Homo sapiens: one gene and its partners. The protein of the gene in region 1 purifies or fractionates together with the protein of each later gene. This does not show direct contact. Each region holds a gene or a part of one and is shown in the gene's direction. Other genes may lie near its edges.

Region 1 (3,495 bases):
GGTGTGGTGGTGGGCGCCTGTAGTCCCAGCTACTCGGGAGGCTGAGGCAGGAGAATGGTGTGAACCCAGGAGGCCGAGCTTGCAGTGAGCCAAGATAGTGCCACTGCACTCCAGCCTGGGCAACAGAGCGAGACTCCGTCTCAAAAAACAAAAAACAAAAACAAAAACAACAACAAAAAAAATTAGCCAGGCATGGCAGCATGCACCTGTAATCCCAGTTACTTGGGAGGCTGAGGCAGAAGAATTGCTTGAACCCGGGAGGTGGAGGTGGCAGTGAGCCAAGATCGCACCACTGCACTCCAGCCTGGGGGACAGAGTGAGACTCCGTCTCGGGGGGAAAAAAAGTGGAACCATTCTGGCTGAAAGAGGAGAGTCTCTACAGACTCCTTTATCCTCTAGTGGCTCATAAGGGACCTTCCCTTAGCCCTTTCTCAATGTTTTAGAAACTACTGCCTTAAGAAGTTTATGGAAAGGACCCCTGGGGCTGAAAGAGGGTGGGAAACTTCTTTGGCAAAGTGTAAGTGGTCAGGCTTTACAAATGCAACAGATTCAGAAATAGGTAGGAGGGAGGCTTGGAACAGGTTCCTTCTCATTCCCTGTGACTCCTCTTCTTACCCTCTCCAGCAATTCTGGACATGTACACACTGATGAGTAACAAGCAATACTATGATGCCCTCTGCAGTGGAGAAATCTGCAACACTGAAGGCATTAGCAGTGAGTGTGTTTGGGGAGCATGGTCCCCAGGGCTCTGGGCAGGCAGTCCTAGTGTCTGGGAGAAGGTAGAAAAGGGTGAAATTGATGATTCTGGGAGAGGACATGCTGCATGAGTGATAAGAAAACCTGTGGAGTGCCAGGTGAGGTGGCTCATGCCTGTAATCCCAGCATTTAGGGAGGCCGAGGCAGGTGGATCACCTGAGGTCAGGAGTTCAAGACCAGCCTGGCCAACATAGTGAAACCTTGTCTCTACTAAAACTACAAAAATTAGCTGGTTGCATGCCTGTAATCCCAGATATTATACTTGGGAAGCAGAGGCACAAGAATTTCTTGAACCCGGGAGGTCAAGGCTGCTGTGAGTTGAGATTGTGCCACTGCATTCCAGCCTAGGTGGATAGAGCGAGACTCCATCTCAAAAAAAAAAAAAAAGAAAAGAAAAGAAAACCAATGGGGAGGAGATTATGGGGAACATGTTGGGGTTCCCTTCCTGCCCTCATTCACCAGGTGTGGTACAGCCTGACAAGTATAAGCCAGTGCCGGATGAACCCCCAAATCCCACAAACATTGAGGAGATACTAAAGAGGGTCCGAAGCAATGACAAGGAGCTGGAGGAGGTGAACTTGAATAATATACAGGTATTTGACTTGCATCCTCCAAACCATAACACCGGATAACCACTGACATCCGAGAGTCCCTTAGCCCACCATCTCCTATTCCCCTCCGATAGGACATCCCAATACCCATGCTAAGTGAGCTGTGTGAGGCAATGAAGGCAAATACCTATGTGCGGAGCTTCAGTCTGGTAGCCACGAGGAGTGGTGACCCCATTGCCAATGTAAGGCTAGTTGACATCCCCAGCCCTCTCCCCACATCTTACATGCACCTGTTGCATGGCTGTCATAAAGGGTTTTGCTAGGGAGTGCTATTCTCATCATGCCTTCTTAGGGCAGCCCTCATGGAGACTCCTACCTTCAGTGCTATGGCTCATAACTCTCTACTCTCTCTAACACCCCTAGTCCCACTGCACATTCATCTCCCTGCTTTCCCCTGCTATCCGCCCTGCTTTCTGTATCCCTCTAGCTCCATTTACAGCACCTGAAAGACTCTTCTCAAAGAGCTGTGTTTCCCTCTTGCTCCTGTTCTTTCTTTCCTCAGTCATCTGTGAAACTGTTCCCTAATCCTAACCCAAGTCCCTACTACCCAGGCAGTGGCTGACATGTTGCGTGAGAATCGTAGCCTCCAGAGCCTAAACATCGAATCCAACTTCATTAGCAGCACAGGACTCATGGCTGTGCTGAAGGCAGTTCGGGAAAATGCCACACTCACTGAGCTCCGTGTAGACAATCAGGTCAGCATTCCCTTCCCCTGATGTTAGCATTCAGTCTCATTGAGTCTCCTCCCTGAGCCAGCCAGTGGGGCAGCTATCTTACTTAATCTTGCTTGAATTCTCCTCTTCATTGTCTCTGTGAGGGAAGCCAAGTCAGCATCTCTCTTCACCCACTGTGGAGAAACAAGCTTCTTTGACCTCCCAAAGGGGTCTGTGATGTGGGATGGTAAACAGCCCAGAGAGGGTGACTGTCAGCTTTTGCCTCTCCCTCCCCCAGCGCCAGTGGCCTGGTGATGCAGTGGAGATGGAGATGGCCACCGTGCTAGAGCAGTGTCCCTCTATTGTCCGCTTTGGCTACCACTTTACACAGCAGGGGCCACGAGCTCGGGCAGCCCAGGCCATGACCCGAAACAATGAACTACGTGAGTAACTGCAGACATGATGTGTGGAGTGGTCAGGGAAGTGCAGAAATTGGTGGATCCTCCTGAAAGCAGACCTAATGACTAACAGCCCAGGGTGCTACCAAAGAGCTATTCATATGAGAATTTCAAATCCCAAGAGTGATCAGAAAGTAAACAGAAAACTCCCCCTGCCCCAAATATGGACCAGTAGAGAGGTAGAAAGGATGCCAGAGATAATCATACTTGTTTAGAGGTATCGTAATTTTATTTGTGGTGTGGTTTCTTGTTTTGTTTTGTTAATGTGGGATGGGCCTGTAAGGTGGCCTAAGACACTACCAATTTATGAGTTTGGCTAAGGGACTGGAAAGGAGAAGAGTGCCTTTGCAGAAAGCAGGAGCTGGAACAAACACTTATGTTTAATATTGCTCCTTTACAGGTCGCCAGCAAAAGAAGAGATAACACTGCATTTCCCTTTACCAACTAGCGCTGGGAGCACTGGACACTTAAATCCTCATCTGTCCTCCTTTCCTGTAAATAAAAGCCCTTCTATCCATTTTGCCTGCCTCCTTCCTTGGGCTTTGGGGTGAGAATCTTGGCGCTAACCCCCAAGGGTTACTGCCAGTTCACCAGGGGATTATTTATACTCTGGGGATCAGCAGGCAGGGAGGTTCAGGTTACTAGGAGGAGGTGGGGGTGTTCCCTCCCTTGGTGTTCCCCATAACCCTGCCAATGCCTTTTGACTCTTCTACTTTCACAGGGAACTTAGCCACAGCCCTGTTTCCAGATGTGGCCAGGTCCCCCTAGTGCCTACCTGCAGTCCTTATGTGATTTGAAGGGGGAAAGGACTTTGAGTGGTAGTGGAGAAGCAGGCAGACAACATGAAGGGCAAAGACCTCTTTTTGACAGTCTTATTAATAGGGCACCAGGCTGATGCAGCTGACGCTTGGCATGGCTTTGGTAGGAGGTGGGGGAGGGGTTAGAAGTATGGATAGCCGTGGCTGGGTGCGGTGGCTCATGCCTGTAATCCCAGCACTTTGGGAGGCCGAGGTGGGC
Region 2 (7,050 bases), on another chromosome or scaffold:
ACAGATTGCTGGGCCCCGCCATCAGAATTTCTGATTCAGTAGGTCTGAGGTTGGGCCCAAGAATTTGTATTTCCCGGGTGATGCCGATGCTGTCTGAGGACTATATTTTGAGAACTACTGATCTTGGTCTTAGAGAATTAAAGATTCATGAAAAGTTTTTAAAATAATATTTTCACTTGGTTAACACTATCCTAGATGGAGTACCTCACTTTGAGCTAATTGATCATAATTACTAGCTGTGAACTAAATGTGATGCCTTTTTTTTGTTAATAATATTTTTTCCTTGAAAGAGCTAAGGCCACTTCCTCAGCAATGCTTTTTTTTTTTTTTTAACTGGGGCTTTTTGAGTTTGCCCCAATTCCCTTCTTTTTTTTTTTTTTTTGAGACAGTCTTGCTCTTTCACCCAGGCTGGAGTACAGTGGCATCTCGGCTCACTGCAACCTCCGCCTCGTGGGTTCAAGCCATTCTCCTACCTCAGCCCCCCCAGTAGCTGGGATTATAGGTGCACACCACCACACCCAGCTAATTTTTGTATTTTTAGTAGAAACAGGGTTTTACCATGTTGGCCAGGCTGGTCTTGAACTCCTGACCTCGTGATCTGCCCGCCTCGGCCTCCCAAAGTGCTGGGATTACAGGTGTGAGCCACTGCGCCCAGCCTGCCCAATCCCCTTCTAACCTGTGTTCAGGTGGGAATGTAGAGCAGAAAGTAGGAACAGGCCTATTCCTGGTCCTCTCACCCAGGCCATTTCAGGCCTGGATCAGGGCTTTGTGGGAATTTAGTTAGGCAGAGGAGGCTGAAAGATGGAGGCAGGGTTGGTGTGAGGTGTGAAGCGGGATGCGGGTAAGGACCACTTTTCTAGCTAGGTTTCCAATGTAAACTTTATTGATTTAAATTGAAATAATTGTAGATTTTTTAGATATATGTGGATGTGTCAGATTTTTTGGTTTCATATATGAGATAATATGAGATATCTACTCATAGGGAAAAATGATTTTCTCTGTTTTCCCTTAGACTTTCAGATCACATGGCCAAGCATGGTGGCTCACGCCCTTAATCCCAGCACTTTTGGAGGCCGTGGCGGGCGGACTGCTTGAGGCCCAGCGTTTGAGGCCACCCTGGCCAATATGGTGAAACCCTGTCTCCACTAAAAATACAAAAATTAGCTGGACGTAGTGGTGTTTACCTGTAATCCCAGCTACTCAGGGGGCTGAGGCAGGAGTGTCGCTTGAACCCAGAAGGCGGAGGCTGCAGTGAGCCGAGATTACAGCACTGTACTCCAGCTTGGGAGACAGAGCGAGACTCATCTCAAAAAAAAAAAAAAAGAATTCCAGGTCACAGTAATGATTCTTACATATAAATTCCATTCTTTGATGCAAGAATGATTAATGATTTGCATACTTCTAGATAAGGTGAATCACAATGTAATATAAATTATTATGTTTTTGTAAAAGGAGTTTGAAAGGATTTTTTTTTTTTGAGACGGATTCTTGCTCTGTTGCTAGGCTGGAGTGCAGTGGCGCGATCTTGGCTCACTGCAACCTCCACCTCCTGGGTTCAAGCAATTCCCCTGCCTCAGCCTCCCAAGTAGTTGGGAATACAGGTGCATGCCACCATGCCCGGCTAATTTTTTGTATTTTAATAGAGACAGGGTTTCACCATGTTGGCCAGGATGTTCTCGATCTCCTGACCTCATGATCCGCCAGCCTTGACCTCCCGAAGTGCTAGGATTACACACGTGAGCCACTACACCCGGCCAATTTGTAGGATTTTAAACATATTTATGGGGTTTTGTTAGTTTGTTTTCAGATATTATTGATAAAGCCAAGAGCTAACTGTTTAGAAACATAACTCAATATGAATACCCAAGGATTTTGGTTTTTGGTTTTTGAATTTTATTTCATAAACGTTTCTTCCTGCCTTATTCTTCACACTGGTGTTTTTGTCCCTTCAGCTTCTCATGGAATATACAGCCCGCTGTAATCCTTACAACCTGGGTCAGTCAGAGAGAGTCAGCATCTCCATTTCCTTGAGATGTTTAAAACACAAACAAGCAAATAATAACTGCCTATAACCCACAACCAAGTTTTGGGCCTCAGATAATAATTCCAGGTAGAATAATTCTGGAAAATAACTCTTAAACTGCAGTTTTTCTTAAAATCCCTTCTATTTGCTCAACTTGCATAGGATTAAAAATCTGGCTCCATTAGTTAATTGTGATGTAGCCCAAGTTTTAGCTAATAGAGTCATTCCTTTACTGATTCTGCTTTTAGACATTTTTTCTTTTAAATTTCACTTATATGATTATTATTTCTGAATATACAATTTCTTCCAAAAATAGGACAAGGACAAATACCAGTTTGGTAAGACAAAGATCTTTTTCCGTGCCGGTCAAGTGGCCTATCTAGAAAAATTGAGAGCTGACAAACTGAGAGCTGCCTGCATCCGGATCCAGAAGACCATCCGAGGGTGGCTGCTGAGAAAGAAGTACCTACGCATGCGGAAGGCAGCCATCACCATGCAGAGATACGTGCGGGGCTACCAGGCCCGATGGTAGGTCTCCTGGGGACAGAGTAGAGTGCCCATCTAATTCACTGTCCAACCAAGGACAGTTTTGACTGGTCACCATAGCTGAAAAGATAACACCTCACCTTTTCTTAGTTCCAAGGGACAACAAATTAACTCATAGGACAGCTAAATAGAATAAAATTTCACTCAGCCTTATGAATGATTCAGATTTATCTTCAAAACATTTACAAACTGCTGCTTACTTATGTCCTCAAAATTTTTATTTTTGATACTTTTATATTGGGCTTGAGGAAATCATGTATCAATTAAAACAGTCGTGAATATGAGCTAGGTAATAATGACTTCATTGTATAATTTTTGGGAGCAATTAACTGAGAGGGTCTGGAAGAGAATTACACTTTAGTGTGATTACTTATTAGTTTAATTTTAATTGAGAAGTATAAGTAGAACTGAATTAATCATGAGCTTATAGCCTAACAAAATCAGGAAAAATATGGTAGATGAATAATGGCTAGATCCAAGAAAGCTGGTGATAACTAAGTATGAGATTACTGTGTATGTCTGTCTGTTCTATAAAGAGGCATGGCCTGGGGTAAATGGATCCTGTTGTAGAAAGAATGAATTTTTGTGAATTTTGCTTTCTTGTAAAATCTGGCAATGTGGGCCATCCTACTTTCCAGAGTTAGGGAGGGCTCAAATGAGATAATAAATGCAAAAATACTTTGGGAAACTATAAATTGCTATACAAATGTAAGTAAATATAAATGTTGACTTAGCATGCACATTATTAGAATAATACAATGGAGGTACTATTTATGCCTAAAACAGTGACACTCTTTAAGTTTCTCTAATATGTATTCCTGCATTTTTTTCTGATTACTGACAACATAATGTTATTTTCTTTGGCCAGCTATGCTAAGTTTCTGCGCAGAACCAAGGCAGCAACCATCATTCAAAAGTACTGGCGCATGTATGTGGTCCGCAGGAGGTACAAGATTAGACGAGCTGCCACTATCGTTCTTCAGTCTTACTTGCGAGGCTTCTTGGCCAGAAATAGGTATCGCAAGGTGAGGCATTATTTTCAACTTTGTTTATTCATTCTATTAGCATTAACCAAATTTCACATCTATACAGAGTACCACAGGGGCTACAATGAAGGTAGGAACTGTATGGGGACAACCAGCTATTGAAATGCATATTTATTTATTTTAAAAAATTCTTTTTTAGAAATAGGATCTCGCTCTGTCACCCTGGCTGGGGTGCAGTGGTGCAGTCATAGTACACTGCAGCCTCAAACTCCTGGCCTCAAGCAGTCTTCCCACTGTGGCTTCCCAAAGTGCTGAGATTATAGGTATGAGCCATTGTGCACATGCCCAGCCTGAAATGCATTTTAAAATACTAAATAATCACATACAGTTATTAACAAAACAATGGGAAAAAAACTTTTACCTCCTTCTTTCTCTTTGTTTATATAATTTGAAAAAAAAAGTATGTTAGTTTACTGTGGCTGCTATAATAAATTATCACAAACTTGTTACCTTAAAACAGCCAAAATTAATTCTCTCAGAGTTCTGGAGACCAGAAGTCCAAAATCATTATCAATGGGACAAAATCAAGTTGTCAGCAGGCTGCTCTCCTTCCAGAAGCTCCAGGGGAGAATCCATTCCTTGCCTCTTGCAGCTTCTGGTGGCTGCCAGCATTCCTGTGCTTGTAGCCACATCAGTCCAGTCTCAGCCTCTGTTTTCACAGCATTTTCTCTTCTGTGTATCTGACTTGACTTCTCCTATCTGCCTCTTATAAGAATAATTATGATAGCATTTGGTTCCACCCATGTGATCCAGGATAATCCTCCCATCTGAAGACCCTTAACCTAATCACATCTGCAAAGGCCCTTTTTCTGAATAAATAGCATTTGCAGGTTCCAGGGATTAGCACCTAATTTCCTTGGGGCCCCCTATTCAGATGACTACAGAGAACTTTGAATAGATAGAATATATGACAAACAGGTTAAAGGTTATTCCAAGAATGAGACAACCTTGGAAGAATTTACCATGGTGAAGAGGAGGCAAATTATAACATTAATGTGGTTAAAATTGTATTGACAGATACAATGCTCCAAAAGTTTTTGACAAATAATCTTACATCTAGCAATAATTAATGGGGTCACCAGAGTAGTCTTAATTATCACCTGTGACCATTGATGAACGATTTTTATCTCTTTCATTTTGGCAAGGTTTGGAGTCTATCCTACAGGCTATATTTCAAATCAGTGAGAAATACAAGCCTGGATATTAGAGCTCTATGGACATCACCATTAGAAGGAGCATTAATGGGGTGATTTGGGTCTCTAAGCACAGACAGTATATGGGTGTGACCTAGGCCCTATTTATTTATTTATTTATTTATTTATTTATTTTTATTTGAAGTGATTTTAGACAACAAAAAATTCGAAACTGGTGAGGCTTGAATGAGTGTATTTAATAGCTGTGTTTTGAAGATAGCTACTCCAGATCTTTCTGCTCACCCCTCCTTTATGTAGTCTCATGCTCTTTCTATATAAGCGTGAGATTTTAGGGAGGAAAGAGGTTTGAAGTTGCTTTTCAGATACACCAAACTAGTTACCTTCCTGTGTTCCTCACTACTTTCCTTAGGAACATCTGAGCTGGGTTTTGAGGTCACTGGTTTAGCAGTGGCAGCCTCCGGCCAGCTCAGGCTCCCACTGTGACTGGACAGGGTGGAAGGTGGTAGCGTAGAGGCTTGCTCACATGTAAGCCAACAGCCATCACATTAGTGCTCCTTCTAGCTGTATTTCAGGTCCAAGGTTCCCCTTCATGAGATTTGGAGTGGGGGGGTCTTAAAGAGAGTACAGGTGTTGATTAATTTCTCTCACTCATGATGAAAGTGAGATTGAAAATGGAAGCTCTGATTAAATGCTGTTTCCATTTGACTAAAATTACAAAAATGGACCCATGTCCAAAGTTACATGGGAGAAGCAAATGGAACAGGAAAATTGGCATTAATAGTTTTATTTATCCAGTCACTGTGCCTGGCTACCTCTTCTTAAAATTCAAGAATTTCTTCTCCATCTTTCCTAGAAAATGTTTACACGGTGTCTTTTTGGTGCTCTTTAGCGACAACAAATTCATCTAATAAGGCAAACTTTTGTTTGTTTATAAGTTTAGGGAAATATCATTTTTTTTTAGGAAATGTAACATAAAATCAAAAGTAAGATTAGTTTGTTTCACATCTTTTTACTTTTACCTTTCATTTTAAAGCCCCATCCCTCCTACCTTTGAATCCCAAAAGTGGATCCTTGCTACATTTGAAATAGCAATGGAAAATCCTCACTAGAATGGTATTCCTCAAATGTGGTAAACAAGAGTGTCATCTTTTAGTTTCTAAAAAAAAAAAAAATCAATAAATCAGTACAAACTTTTTAGTACCCCAAGTGTTGGCCTCTACAGACAGTTTGCTGCCCATACCCCGTGTCCTCATGCACGGGCCTAATAATGCATAGTGAGGTGGTATCAGCAGTCAGGGTGGTGGGGATATCTCTTATTTTAGTAGCACATAGTTTACAGGATGCCTGGTTCTGTTAATTTTATAGAGGATCATCTGTTGCCAACAGAAATCATATACTAATAAGAAACCTAATGTATTTTTTCTTTCTTTTTATAGTTGTTTTTCTTTTGGTAATCTGGTGCTTTTTATTTAGACAGCTTCCAACTCTATATTCTGCTTAGAATTATACACATAATATGTGCATATGACACATTTTTATGTATGTTTCTGAAATCACCTTCTAAAGTCTACTTTTCAAATCACTTTTAAAAATAATTTTGTAGCCTCCATATATCTGTGATAAGTATAATCTACATAGTACATTGTCAATTCAACTTTTATGTCTTTTCCTCTAGGTAATGTGTGGATTTTCAGCCCGACATAGATTGATAATCATGAGTGTAGTCCAGGGTCTTGACATTGCTTGCCCTTATCCTTTTCTGCAGATACTCCGTGAGCACAAAGCAGTCATCATTCAGAAGCGAGTCCGGGGCTGGCTGGCCCGCACACACTACAAGAGGAGCATGCATGCCATCATCTACCTTCAGTGCTGCTTCAGGCGGATGATGGCCAAGCGTGAGCTAAAGAAGCTCAAAATCGAGGCTCGCTCAGTGGAGCGCTATAAGAAGCTGCACATCGGCATGGAGAACAAGATCATGCAGCTGCAGCGCAAAGTTGATGAGCAGGTGTGTTTCACAAAGGGGCCCTGAGAGTGGAGTATGCCTGAAGAAATCCACCAGGATTATTTTCAATATTGTTTTTCTTTGACTTTACCCTTCGGTCTTAGTAAAAAGTAAAATTATGACCGTATTTATTTCCATAATGGGCATGGAAGTACTTATGAACTCATAAGGTGGATCACAATTGCAAAAACTAAGGCAGGAAGTTATTATTATTATTATTATTATTATTATTATTATTATTATTATTACTATTATTTGAGACAGGGTCTCACTCTGTCG
Region 3 (7,050 bases), on another chromosome or scaffold:
TATTTAGATTGATAGAGAATTTAAAGTCCAGAAAGCCTTGTTTTCAATTGGATTCCCCGTTCCCAAGCCTATACTGTACTGCAGTGATACTTCTGTCATTGGAACAGAATTTTACGTAATGGAACATGTGCAGGTAAATTAACACTTAATCTTATTTTGTTGCTTTTACTTTTAATTATGAAGTTAATTAAGATGTTTTATTATGATACTTAATAAATGATATAGTTTGTTATTTAACATTTTAGGTAATTAGATTGCATTGCAAAGGTTTACAATTTTGTTCAAATTTGAGCACTTACAAAGGGAGGGATGGAATAGACAAGAAACAAATTTAGTAATTAGGGGGTATTGACTTATTCTTAAATTTTCCTCTAGGTGTCAGTAAAGAGCTATCTGTAATGGCAATAACCAAATTGTCCATAAGGTAGCAGGGAAAACAGACTCCACATAGGTCAAGCCATTAAGAACAATAAATTCAAAATGTGTTTTAAATTTTTTCTGTAAAATAGTTGAGAGTAGTTTTGATGTTTATATTCATCTTGGCATATCCTTTTATTTTCCCTTTGGCATGTATACTCTAATATTAAATATGTTTCACAAATGAATGTTTTTCTAGTATATTCGACAAAGTATTGATTATACACATTTAAATAATCTGTTGTAATCACTTCCATAGGGTCGAATCTTCCGTGATTTAACAATTCCTGGACTTAGCCCAGCAGAACGTTCAGCCATATATGTGGCCACGGTAGAAACATTGGCTCAGTTACATTCCTTGAATATACAGTCACTGCAGCTGGAAGGATATGGTATAGGTGCTGGGTACTGCAAAAGACAGGTAATGCATCCACATTAATAGCTATTTTTTTCAAGTTCTTGTAAATAATATACCTTATTAGTCAACAAAAAAAGCTATTATTGTATAGTTTTCTGAAGCTTGGCCATGACTTTTAACATTGTCCTTCAGAATGACTAGTTTTTAGTATAAAATTATCTTATGTTTTTATATTAGGTTTTGTTCAGCAAAATCTTCTGTTTTAGACTCTTAATTTTCCAATACTTTTAACTATACAGTTTTTTCTTCTTCTTCTTCTTCTTCTTCTTCTTCTTCCTCTTCCTCTTCCTCTTCCTCTTCCTCTTCTTCCTCCTCTTCTTCCTCCTCTTCTTCCTCTTCTTCCTCCTCTTCTTCCTCCTCTTCTTCCTCCTCTTCTTCTTCTTCTTCTTCTTCTTCTTCTTCTTCTTCTTCTTCATCATCATCATCATTTTGAGACAGAGTCTCCCTCTGTTGCCCAGGCTGGAGTGCAGTGGTGCAATCTCTGCTCACTGCAAGCTCCACCTCCCAGGTTCACGCCATTCTCCTACCTCAGCCTCCCGAGCAGCTGGGACTACAGGCTCCCGCCATCACGCCCTGCTAATTTTTTTGTATTTTTAGTAGACATGGGGTTTCACCGTGTTAGCCAGGATGGTCTCAATCTCCTGACCTCGTGATCCGCCCGCCTCAGCCTCCCAAAGTGCTGGAATTACAGGCGTGAGCCACCATGCCCGGCTTACAGTTTTTTCTTTCTCAATTGGACTAGCAGACATTTATTAAGCTTGACTGTGTGTTTAATACCTGCTGAGTACTGTGTTAAATATCAAGAAAAATATACAATAGGTTCTTCCCCACAGGAACTTATGGTCATTTTTGAGAGACCTGTACATGCATGTCATTCACGAAACCTGAAAATGGTATAAAAGAGTGTAAAATCTAGTGGTAAATTGTTTGATACTCACCATGATTCAAAGGGTGGAAGTTGGGATGCCCTTGCTTATATAGAGAAAGCTTCCTGGGAGAGATATCTTATAATGAGTATTTAAGGAAAGATAAAATTTGGAGTGATGGAGATCATTTTAAATTAAAGGAAAGCAATACTAGATATATATGGGGCTGCTTTCCTTTGTAAGCATATCATTTTGTGGGGGTTAAGGAAGAGAAAAGGGAACTAAAGTTTAGAGTGTACTCACTATATGCTAGGTCCTACATGGCAGAGTGAGTTGTCGGCCTCTCTTTTTTGATCTTTACAACAACTCTAAGATATAGGTATTATTACTCCCATTTTGCAGATGAAGAAAGGGAGGCTTGCATCAATCAAGTAATACACAAGTAAGTGGCTTAGATATAATTTAAACCCAGGTTGATATGACTAGATAAGACCAAGTAAAGGTCTTTGCTCTATTGCACTAAGTTGAGCAAAGATACCTCGGGAAATGGAGATAAAAAAGCAAATAAACAATATGGTCCCACCTGTTGGAGGACTTTACGAGTAAGTTGATTTGTTTGCATTCAATTCTAAGAACAATAGAAGATCTTTACACTATTCATACCTGTAAAATATTTAGAAAATTCTGTGGGTAATAAGAAAGAGTATTAAAATGAAAAGTAGGCTGGGCGCGGTGGCTGAAGCTTGTAATCCCAGGACTTTGGAAGGCCAAGGCAGGCGGATCACGAAGTCAGGAGTTCGAGACCAGCTTGACCAATATGGTGAAACTCCGTCTCTACTAAAAATACAAAAATTAGCTGGGTGTGGTGGTATGCATCTGTAATCCCAGCTACTTAGGAGGCTGAGGCAGGAGAATCACTTGAACCTGGGAGGTGGAGGTAGCACTCCAGCCTGGGCAACAGAGCGAGACTCTGTCTCAAAAAAAAAAAAAGTAAATGTCTTCTTTTTTCTTCTAGTCCCCATATTCCCTTTTTCAGGGGTTACTTATTTCTCGTGACCCTTTCCAGAGATTATCTATGCCTATATATTTGTGTGTGTGTGTGTGTGTGTGAGAGAGAGTGTGTGTGTGCGTGTGTGTGTTTGTATGCATTCTTTTTTTTTCTTCTACAAAGTAGTTGCTGAATAAAGACTAGAACCCATATCTCTTGATCCCTAGGCCAGTATTTTTCTCTTGATAAAAAACTAGGTAAGTAAAATGGAACTATATGGAAAAGAGACTTAAATGTTTAAGGTTTAGGCTGATTTGAGTGTTTTAGGATGACAGGAGTATCACCAGCATGGGTCTTAAGTATTTAGGAGTAAAACAGCATTTGAATTTTGTTTTAATTTTAGAATTGCTAGATCCTACATTCCAGTTTCAGCTTTACCATTTTTCTTATTTATATGTCTTTAGGTATCAACCTGGACAAAGCAATATCAAGCTGCAGCTCATCAGGACATCCCTGCCATGCAACAGCTATCGGAGTGGCTAATGAAGAACTTGCCCGATAATGACAATGAAGAGAATTTGATTCATGGAGATTTCAGACTAGATAACATAGTTTTCCACCCTAAAGAGGTACAGTTAGCTATGTTTACAATTAATTGAGTAGGTCTGTTTTGTGACACAGTACTAAGTAAATGCTCCCCCCAGAGCACTGAGGGAGCCCAACCCACTCCCTGTTCCCCTACAGCTCAGGACTGTCGTCACCACTCAAAATTTTTAGAAAGGAGTCCTGCAGATTTTCCAGCATAAGTTAGCTGCCTACCTTTGAGACTGGTTCTAATCCCAAGTGGTATCTGGTTTACTGCTTAAAAGGATTTGGGAATTTTACATGCATGATGCTGTTTTCTTCAAATAAGTTTTCATCTACTAGTTACAATATTTAGCTTATCCATGTTCTTGCTGTTTTTTCTGGTTCATTTATACTTCTTTGGGGTTTTTAGCCCTATCTCATGAAGAATTTATTATTTGTTTATTATAAACTCTGAGAATAGAGAATTCCAAAAGCTTCTTGAGGCTTCAAAAGAATTACATGAGATTAATATAACCTTGCTCAATGTAAATGTGCATACTGTATTCTTTATAAAGAGTATAAACAAATGAAAGCTGTAATCCTCCACTGAGCACCTACAATGAGGCCTAGGATTACAGTATAGTAGGAATGAATCCTGCTTCTGAGAGGAGGATTTTCTGGGTTCATTAGTTTCTTAGAATGCTAAGATGTTTTAGGGCAGGAAGAGCTAGTGGCACTGATGAATTCTGAATTCTAACCTTGTTAATTATCTACCCTGAGATTAGAAAAATTAAATATGCTAATTTATAATCTAGATAATTATAAAAGCATATGCCTGAAAACATAGCAGGATCTGGCCTGTATTTGATCTGTGTCATTTAATTAATATTTTAGTCGAGTCTACATAATATTGAGTCTCTATAGTAGATAACAAATTAGAACCCACTAGACTTGGAGTTCCTTTAAAACAATGACTGTATCTTATTCATCTTTATATTGCAGGTGCTTATATGATTCTGATGAATCTATGTTGAAGGGATTAATTTTAGTTAATTATTCACTAGCAACTATTTCCATCTCATAAATTTATGCTTAACTTTCATTCCCTAGCAGTGTGAACTTAAAGCATGTTATTCAATCTCTCTCTGTGCCTCTATTTTTATTTTAACTTTTTGTTTTGAAATAATTAGAGTCCCCAAAAAAGTTGTAACAGTGTTATAGTACAGAGAAGTCCTGTGTATCCATCATCCAAATTCTGCAAAATGGATATTATACAACTATGGTACATTATCAAAGCCAGGAAATTGACATTGTGTACCTTTTAAAATTGAAAAAAAAAATTCTGAGTTGCTGGGCAGCTAAAATGAAACAGTCAATGTGGAGCAACTAGCTGGTACCTGGCACATCAATGATGCTCAGTTTATTTCAGGTACCCTCATTTTTCCATTTTTTCCCCTTCATTTTTCTCTCTGACTTTTCTTAGACTACTTGTCAAGCTTCTTCAGAAAAATATTAGGGTATAAGTAAATGCTTCATAATATGTACGAAAACCTAAACAGTGGTTGTAGGGGATAGAATTATAGGAGACATAATTGTACATTTCTGTAATGTTTAGGGTTTGATGTTTTTTGGTTTTTATTTTTAAAACAACAGCATGTTTAATTTTTGTCATCAGAAAACACAACAATTAAGAAAGAAGAATAAACAATTTTAAATGACAAACCTTCCAGGAATGTGTGGAGTAAGCCAGTAAAGGAAACTACAGGATATGGCAAAACGAAATTATTTTCTGTTACTTATTTACAAAGTATTTAAAGCATGTTTGGGCAAGTATTTCAGTAGCACAATAGGCTCACTGCAATGTTGAAAAGAAATCCAGTTTTCCTGGAAAATGTTGATTTTCCAAATATAAATTTTACCAGTAGAGAAATGTTTAAGATCTTGGAGTTTAATGTAAAATCTGCATATTGTCATTTCAACTTGAAAAATATATTTAATTAGAAACATCCATTGGAACTTGTCAACTTCAGTGATCTAGAAATTGAAACCCCTTATTTTTGACCTCACCCTCTTTACCTTCTGTTCTTTTATTTCTCTGCATCTTCCCTGAGACACTGCAAATTTGATTGCTGTTAATTTAGAATCCATAAGCCCTTCATGACTTCACTTGACTTCTTATCCTACATAAGCCACATGGTCATAATCAGTCATCTCAAAAACTACCTTTAGTATCAATTTCATTAATAATTTTTTGACTATAGATGTATGCAAGTAATGTAAGAATTATAAAGTGTCCTGACCTTAGGTTACTTATTATTCTAGAATCTTCCCACCCTGACTTTATATCATCATTATTATTATTATTTTACTTTTTATTTTTTCTAATAACCCTACAGGGGATGTCCATCACCCCTTGACTTTAACCAGTTTCTAGCCCTAAACTTGAATCCTCATATTTTTGCTGCAGAATAAAGTCGTGAAGTAAGGTTAATTGGATCTGGGACATTTTTATGCCACATGATTTTATCTAGGCTGTAACTTCATCTCTTAGTAAAACCTGTGACATTTAAAAAATGGCTTTTCTAAATCTTTTCCCTTCTTCTCAAACTCTCACATTTCTTGTCCCATCTCGGTTCCCACTCTCAGCATGTGGTCTTGTCTTCTACCTAACTCATCTTTGTCCTTTCAGTCATTTTCCAGCATAGCCTGCTTTCTAGGAATTACACCATGCCCCTCAAAGTTCTCTTTATATTGTTGAAGACATTTTCGTCCGCTACACAATATCACCTGTATGCAGATTGATGGGTGATATTTTTCTTTAGCCTCATTGCCAAGAAAATTTGTCCCTCTTGAGCAGCTGGTTTGTTTTTGACCTGCATACACTATAAAGATTGTGACTGACCATGCTTCACACTTTATTTTACCCGCTATAAAATTCAAAGCAAATTTTACTACCCACACTAACAACTATGCATGTCCTATCACATTCAATTATGTGTAATAACCTTACTCCTAGCTTCATCTTTTCATTACAAATTCTATTATTTTCTTCCCTGCCTTCTTCATCTACTGTTTGTTCTGTTGGATTGTATGTATTTTTTGTTTGTTTCGAATGCCAATACACATACATATTAATAAAATTCAATGGTGTAAAAAGTATACATAAAATGAATCTCTTTATAAAGAAGATAATTTAAAAAACTAAAAGCTTTCTGTTGAGCTGAGGTTTCAGAAAAACTATCAAAAATAATTTTACTAATAAGTTCCCTAGCAGCAGTAAGACGAACTAGTAAATGTCCAGATCAACCACTAAAAGTTATGTTGAGCTTTTAATAACTCTCAACACAAACAGGCATCAACAGGACTCTAATTAGCTATTGCTAATTAATTTGCACTAATTTATGCAATTTGATGAGCCATCAGCTTTTCTCACTGGCTGTTGTTTTATAGCTTTGTGTTTTTACCCCAAAAATGGTTCAGATATTCTGAAAAGTAACTCCAGAGAAGTTTCCCAATTGTATTAAAAAAGAAAAGTAATCATTTATAGCATAAGTAAGTGCCTCATCTTTACTTTGGATGTTAAAAGCATAGATAACAAATAGAATGATGTAAGAGAAAAATGCATCCATCCTCTTCAGTAGTTTCACAAATCTAGCTAGTATAGTAATTTATAATACTTATAATATTATAAATTTATAGTATAATATAACCACAATAAAAGCTCTTATAAAGTCATAGAGAAAGGAGTGATCAATTTTTTTCCACAGTAACAATGGCAAAGTTTTGATTGCCTT
Region 4 (7,050 bases), on another chromosome or scaffold:
CCGTGTGCCGGCCCCCTGCGCCCCTCAGCACCCGGGGAATACCTTAGTGAGAGCACTTGGCACGTTGTGTTGATGCACTTGGTCGTCTCTGTATGCTTGGTCTGCATAGACATTCAGTCCACAAGTTTGGACACCAGACGGCTTTACCTACTTTCACACAACCCCTCCCCACTAAGTATGTTCCCCTTCGGCCTAGAACTTGCCCTTTCCTTTCTCTTTGTAATGTGCCTTTAGTAGCCCTCATCTTTGTATTTTAATGATTTTTTTTATCCCACTGTAGTGTAGGTATTATTCTCTGCTCTATCCTCAGCACCCAGGACAGTGCCAGGCATTTGGTAGTATTCTGTGTGTGAAAGAGAAACACGGTGCTATTTGTTAAAGTAACTAGGGACAGTGCATCTGAAAACCTGAAGACTGGAAGGGCAGGTGAGGTGACTAGACCTGTGTCCTCCAGGGAGCAGAACCAAGACAGAAGCAGCTGAAAGGAGCCAGAACTGACTCAGATTCTGAATTTTCTAGTGCTTTAAACTAGGTTTAAAAGGGAAGCAACTTCCACTGGGGATGTCTGAGCAGCTGGATGGCCGTTTGCCAGGGAGGACGGAGAGGGATTTAAGCATCCACCAGAGTTTGGCCAGGGTTACCTTGAAGATGCTTCCAACACCTATGTTTTATAAGTTTACAAAACCAGAAGAGCCATTTCCCATGTGCCACCCCTGGGCCACCTGCAGCTCCTTGTTGCTTCCCTTTTTTTTTCCTTTTTCTTTTCTTTTCTTTCTTTCTTTTTTTTTTTTTTTTTTTTTTTTTGGAGACAAGAGTTTTGCTTTTGTCACCCATGCTGGAGTTCAATGGCACGATCTCGGCTCACTGCAACCTCCACCTCCCAGGTTCAAGTGATTCTCCAGCCTCAGCCTCCTGAGTAGCTGGGATTACAGGCGCCCGCCACCATGCCCGGCTAACTTTTGTATTTTTAGTGGAGACGGGGTTTCGCCATGTTGGCCAGGCTGGTCTTGAACTCCTGACCTCAGGTGATCCACCCACTCGGCCTCCCAAAGTGCTGGGATTCCAGGCGTGAGCCGCTGCGCCTGGCCTGTTGTTTCCGTTTCTACAGCAGAGCAGCAGAGTTGGCGGCAGTCCTGATGTTTCTCTGCCCTTAGGTTGCGCGTGCCGTTCATTTGTTCAGGTACTTACTGAGAGGCTGGCTGGTGCCAGATGCTGTCCCCGGCACCAGGAATTTGGCAAAGTAGAGACTTGGAGCTCCATAAATGCAGGGAAAAAGTGCTACTGATTTTTGCCTCTAGCATCTTACTGTACATTGCACAGAGTAGGAACTCCTAGTGCTTGAATGAATTACTAAATAGGAGTTGAAATAACCTGTACCGTTTTCCGAGGCTCTATTTTGTCTGTTTTTTAAACTGTGTAAAATCATATGAGATACACTAAAATTGTATAAAATCATGTAAAAATATCATATGGGATACACCTGAACTTTAATCTTTAAATATTGAAGTTTATTTTCCCTTAACGCTTAATAAAATAAAAAAGAAAATTGGGTGCTCAGACTACCCAAATAGAAACTACCCTGAAGTATAAAAGATTTAGGGAATCACCTGTTTTCCCTTGACATCATCTGCCTTTTTTGCCATTTCCCCCAGGAACTCAATGAGTTAAAGGACCAGATTCAGGATGTAGAAGGCAAATACATGCAGGGATTGAAAGAGATGAAGGTACCAATTCACAGACGTGTGGTCTCACGATATTAACCCAACTTAACTTAAAAAAAAAAACAACATCCTAAAGAAGAAATTCAAAGTGCATGCTTACTGTAAATAGGCTCCAGGGTGTAGAAGAACTCACAATGGCAGGAGTGCCGGCATGGGTGTACACTCACCATTTTCCCAAATGCATTGTTTGAACCAAGATTGAAAATGTAACTGCCCAGTAGAAAAGGTTACTAACATACTCCCTGATGCATGCCTTAGACTTACCATCCTTCCCCCAGGCTTAAAACCAGTTTCTCATTTCCCATAGGCGTGTGCCAGACACTTGAAGAAGGTTCTTGGTTTTCTTCACTTTTTGTAGTAGTTGTATACAAAAATGCTTCAGTTGATTTGCTTCTCAAAATATCTGATGTCTACTAATAAGGCCGTCCTCACATGCCACACTTTTGAAACATCCCAATTATTTGCACCCTGTAAAATGCTACTAATTGAAGTAAAGACTGACTATGGCATTGGCTTTCTTGGAGCGTGTGCACACTGCTTTTAGAGTGTGCAGTGACTTCATTGCACCAGCCAGGAGATGTGGTTGCCCTGTTCCTTGACAGTAAGGTGGGCAATCAGTGACTGTCTTCCTTAGGCAGCAGCGGATCATGGATCTGGAAGTGGGTGGCGTATCTGTTACTTCCTTTTCAGCCCCCTAGAAAGTACCTGCAAGATCATTTGAATTTAATATCAAAGGGCACCAGACAGAGGAGGTGACATCGATCATGACTAATTCACTATCTTCATATCTGCCACCTTTCCTGAAAGGGGGAAAAATAAGACTCTGGCTTTCAATTCATGCGAAAAGGAGCCACTTGGCCAGGCGTGGTGGCTCACGCCTGTAATTCCACACTTTGGGAGGCCGAGGTGGGTGGATCACCGGAGGTCAGGAGTTTGAGACCAGCCTGGCCAACATGGTGAGACCCCGTCTCTACTAAAAATATAAAAATTAGCCAGGTGTGGTGGTGCGCACCTGTAATCCCAGCTACTTGGGAGGCTGAGTCAGGAGAATCACTTGAACCTGGCAGGTGGAGGCTGCAGTGAGCCGAGATCGTGCCACTGCACTCCAGCCTGGGTGACAGAGCGAGACACTGTTTCAAAAAAGAAAAAATGCTGCTGGGGAGCCACTGAACCAACCGGAGACCCGCTGGTCCCACGTGAAGCAGCTGTCCTGGTGTGGAGGTACAGAGCTAGACCAGCACTGGTCCCTCCAGCCCCCTGGTAGCCTCTGCTGCACCTGAACTGGCAGCTCTTGCCGCTGCCTTTAGCTCTGCATGTATGCGCCCTGAAGGTTCTGCCTCTCTGTTTTGGAATCGCCTTCCCCTCCTCATGTTTGGGGACCTGCAAGGGTGTGAGGCACGTGAGGGCATCGCCATGCGTATTTTACAGGCCTCTTTCTCTGGACTGTCCTTCAAAGGGAATGACCTTTGTCTTTCCAGGACCTACCCAGTGAGATCTGCCTGCCATTTTCCTATGAGTCAAAAATCTGAACTCACTACTGCTCCTTTCCTGGTTCATAAGCCAGAGTAGGGCTGGTTGGCAGTCACTGGCTTGTGGCCCTATGTAATTATCTCAGCCATCACACACTGGCTCTTTCACAAGGGCTGGTCACACGCCTCGAGTGATTCTTCAGAAATCTGTTGAACAGCCTGACACCCAGCCCTAGGACGCCGTGCTGGGGGGATTCCCCAGCTACTGAGTGGGGCCAGAGACTCTACTGCCTCTGTGACCACATCCCTTTCCATACTGGTATCTCGTTTGTTCTAATGAGTGTGTCCATTGCTTTTAATAGTGAATTTTCTGAGCAATGAGAATTTGACCAAATTGAAAAGGGGGATTTCCATGCATTTGAAATTGCCATGTGTTTCTTCTTCTGATCCATTTGCTCTAAGAAATATAGTCTAAGTTTAGGACTGAGGGTTTTTTTTTAACAGAATACTGAATGATTCTTTGTTTTGATTTTTTTATTGCAATTTCAAAAATATGACCTGCTTTCCACAGGACTCTCTAGCAGAAGTTGAAGAGAAATATAAGAAGGCTATGGTTTCCAATGCTCAGCTAGACAATGAAAAGACAAACTTCATGTACCAGGTTGATACCCTAAAAGATATGTTGCTGGAGCTTGAAGAACAGCTGGCTGAATCTAGGCGGCAGTACGAAGAGAAAAACAAAGTAAGCATTAGTATGATACAGAATGTTAACAATAGGCTGCGTGCAGTGGCCCATGCCTGTAATTCTGGTACTTTGGGAGGCCAAGGTGGGAGGATTACTTGAGCCCAAGAGTTCGAGACCAGCCTGGGCAACATGGCGAGACATCATTTCTAAAAAGAATTAAAACAATTAGCCAGGTGGTACATGGCTGTAGTCCCAGCTACTTGGGAAGCTGAGGTGGGAGGATCACTTGAGCCTGGAAGGTTGAGGCTGCAGTGAGCTGTGTTGACACCACTGCACTCCAGCTTGGGCAACAGAGAAGACACTGTCTCAAAAAAAAAAAAAAAAAAAGGGAATGGTAGGGTGTGTGTGTGTGTGTGTGTATGTATGTATGTATGTGTGGATATATCGTGTGTATGTATGTATATATAATGTATAATTTACATTATGTATTTTTATATTTTTAAACAATGGCTCTCCGCTTATCCAGGAAATCCAAACATCTGAGAATAAAAGTACCATACTCTTTGCCAAGTGACTTGAAATATTGATACGTATAATTTCAACATGTAAACTGGAGACAGTTTTTCTAGGAGAACATCTAAGCTAAAAGCAAAACCATGAAAAAACATACCTATGAAAGAGCCACCATGCTCAGATAAGGTGCGATCAGATGCTTCAAGATTTTCCTATTCATATGTATTTTCTGATTTTTATTTTGTTCTCTCTCAACACCATAGGGAAATAGTTATGAGTATCAAAGATTTTAAGAAAATTATATTATTTTCTGCTGATTGGGAAAAGACACAGTTACTCTACTTAAGAATTAAATATATCACCAAGCTCAGAGAGAGAGATAGTCTTATCTGAGCTTTCATTAGGAACCACTGGAACTAGTTTGTTAATAGCTGAGATCAGATATAATTTCTATTGAGAGTCTCAAGCATGAGTCATGTGTTAAGATAAGTAATGACAGCGGACTGATTCCACGAAGGCTGGGCTTGGATGTTCTTTAGATAGAAAGCAAGGAATACTTTTTTCATACTTTTAGGAATTGTCCAATTTTTCAGAGATTCTGAGAAAAACAGAAAATGTAATGTGTGAGTGTCGTTGTTGTTGTTGTTTTTAACTGGCTATTATCCTCTAAATCCAAAGGGTTAAAACCAAGGTACCCTTGACAACCTTCAGGCCTGCTTCTTCGACTGCTATAGAATTGAGTTGGAAGCTGAAGAACATTTTACGCACAAAGTTCCTTATAGCTGAACTCTGCAAGAGGGGAGCTTTTCACAAGACTGATGTCATGTGGGAACGGAGGAGTGGAGAGCACAGCCCAGCCCCCCTTCGGGTGGGGGCCTGTAATGCATATGCATTCCTCCTGGAATGCTGTCATTAGGCATCATTCAGTGGACTGAAAACTCCCGAGTCTCACTCCAGAGAAGCTGGATGGTGCTAGAATGCTGTCCCGAGATGGACACAGGGGCCATGCAAAGCCCCACAGGAGGGCCCTTGTCATAGCCAGGAGGGCACCAGCCACCCCCAAGCTAAAGGAAGTGGGCGAACAGAAGTGCCAGGGTGAGCAGAAGCTCAGGCCAGATCCCATCTCAGATCACCCGCCTGACAGGTCTAGGGAAGGAGCGTCCTGCAGGCCTGTAAGCTGTCAGCAAAGTGAGTTGGGTCTCAGGCCGTCACCAGGGATTGCGCTGCTGTGACTGGGCAGGAACACAGCAGAGCCGAGCTGCCAGCTTCCTGGGCTGAGCCTCAGGTGGGGAGGCCAGGCCTGAGGAGCAGCTAGGTTTTGCAGGCTCTCCATTTGCTCCCCCAAACTCTCCTGTTTTTGTCTCTTAAGGGGCAGCCCTGAAGCACAGAGCTGGCCACCAGCTGTTCATGAGAGATGCTTTAGTAGGCCATGTTTATCTCCTTTTTATCCCAAAGAGTTTTCCTTGTCATATTTCAGCAGGGGCCATTTTATGGTAAGTCCTTGCAGGGCAGCCTCACCCAGGCTCTCAGCACAGTGCTGTGGAAGACACCAGGCTCCCTGGGGGGGCCCTTCGTCGGCTCTTGCTTCACTGTAGATAAGAAATCAGAAAATCCTTGTTGATTGCATCAACTCCTCAGGTTAATTTGACAGTAAGTCATCAGGCATCATCTATAAAGTCCAGAGGAATCTGTTTGTGTTGTTTGAAAGGGCTTGAAGGCCAGGTGCAGTGGCTCATGCCTGTAATCCCAACACTTTGGGAGGCTGGGGCAGGTGGATCGCTTGAGGTCAAGAGTTTGAGACCAGTTTGGCCAACATGGTGAAACCCGATCTCTACCAAAAATAGAAAAATTAGCCGGGCATGGAGGCAGGCGCCTGTATTCCCAGCTACTTGGGAGGCTGAGGCAGCAGAATCGCTTGAACCCAGGAGGCAGAGGTTGCAGTGAGCTGAGATCGCACCACTGTACTCCAGCCTGGACAACAGAGCAAGACTCCATCTCAAAAAAATATATAAATAAAAAATAAAATAAAAGACCTTGAAGATTGTGATGATGTAGTAGCAGGTGATTTGTTCCACAGAAACTATAAATCGTGAGAGCCTGAACTGGCATGCCAGAAACATGGGATTCCACTGCTTTAGTGCTGTTTTTCTCCTTTACAGGAATTTGAAAGGGAAAAACACGCCCACAGTATACTGCAATTTCAGTTTGCTGAAGTCAAGGAGGCCCTGAAGCAAAGAGAGGAAATGCTCGAGGTAGGTAGCATTCTCCTGCTTTTCTTTTCCTTTTTTCCCTTTGGAGCATTTTGTCAGGCCATGACTATCTTAGCTTAGGCTGCAGTAATAAAATACCATACACAGCATGGCTTAAACAACAGAAATTAATTTTCTTACAATTCTGGAGGCTGGGAGTCCAAGATCAAGGTTGGGTTCAGGTGAGGCCTCTCTTCCTGGCCTGCAGACAGCCACCTTCTTGCTATATCCTTCCTCCAACGGTGGAGAAAAAGCAATGTCTCTGATGTCTCTTCATATAAGGACACTAATCCTATTTGATCAGGACCCCACTCTTATGACCTCATTTAACCTTAATTACTTCGTAAAAACCCTATCTCCAAATACAGTCACATTGGGCATTAGGGCTTCAACAGATGAATTTAGAGGGACAC

Evidence for each region.
Region 2: the proteins of TMOD4 (region 1) and MYO5A purify together in Homo sapiens (affinity purification with mass spectrometry; 2 studies listed by BioGRID and IntAct, with this or other methods). This does not show direct contact.
Region 3: the proteins of TMOD4 (region 1) and ACAD11 purify together in Homo sapiens (affinity purification with mass spectrometry; 2 studies listed by BioGRID and IntAct, with this or other methods). This does not show direct contact.
Region 4: the proteins of TMOD4 (region 1) and LRRFIP1 purify together in Homo sapiens (affinity purification with mass spectrometry; 2 studies listed by BioGRID and IntAct, with this or other methods). This does not show direct contact.

What each region holds. Positions count from the first base shown.
Region 1 is NC_000001.11:151,169,487-151,172,981, reverse strand, and holds the end of TMOD4 (tropomodulin-4), read left to right. Parts: intron 1-624; coding exon 625-714; intron 715-1,218; coding exon 1,219-1,349; intron 1,350-1,441; coding exon 1,442-1,549; intron 1,550-1,918; coding exon 1,919-2,062; intron 2,063-2,318; coding exon 2,319-2,463; intron 2,464-2,685; exon of another isoform or gene 2,686-2,878; coding exon 2,879-2,901; 3' UTR 2,902-2,995; downstream 2,996-3,495. UniProt on the Homo sapiens protein: Blocks the elongation and depolymerization of the actin filaments at the pointed end. The Tmod/TM complex contributes to the formation of the short actin protofilament, which in turn defines the geometry of the membrane skeleton.
Region 2 is NC_000015.10:52,371,848-52,378,897, reverse strand, and holds part of MYO5A (unconventional myosin-Va), read left to right. Parts: intron 1-2,339; coding exon 2,340-2,551; intron 2,552-3,437; coding exon 3,438-3,594; intron 3,595-6,534; coding exon 6,535-6,774; intron 6,775-7,050. UniProt on the Homo sapiens protein: Processive actin-based motor that can move in large steps approximating the 36-nm pseudo-repeat of the actin filament. Can hydrolyze ATP in the presence of actin, which is essential for its function as a motor protein. Involved in melanosome transport.
Region 3 is NC_000003.12:132,635,760-132,642,809, reverse strand, and holds part of ACAD11 (acyl-CoA dehydrogenase family member 11), read left to right. Parts: intron 1-7; coding exon 8-133; intron 134-676; coding exon 677-838; intron 839-3,153; coding exon 3,154-3,318; intron 3,319-7,050. UniProt on the Homo sapiens protein: Acyl-CoA dehydrogenase, that exhibits maximal activity towards saturated C22-CoA.
Region 4 is NC_000002.12:237,749,548-237,756,597, forward strand, and holds part of LRRFIP1 (leucine-rich repeat flightless-interacting protein 1), read left to right. Parts: intron 1-1,652; coding exon 1,653-1,724; intron 1,725-3,761; coding exon 3,762-3,932; intron 3,933-6,547; coding exon 6,548-6,640; intron 6,641-7,050.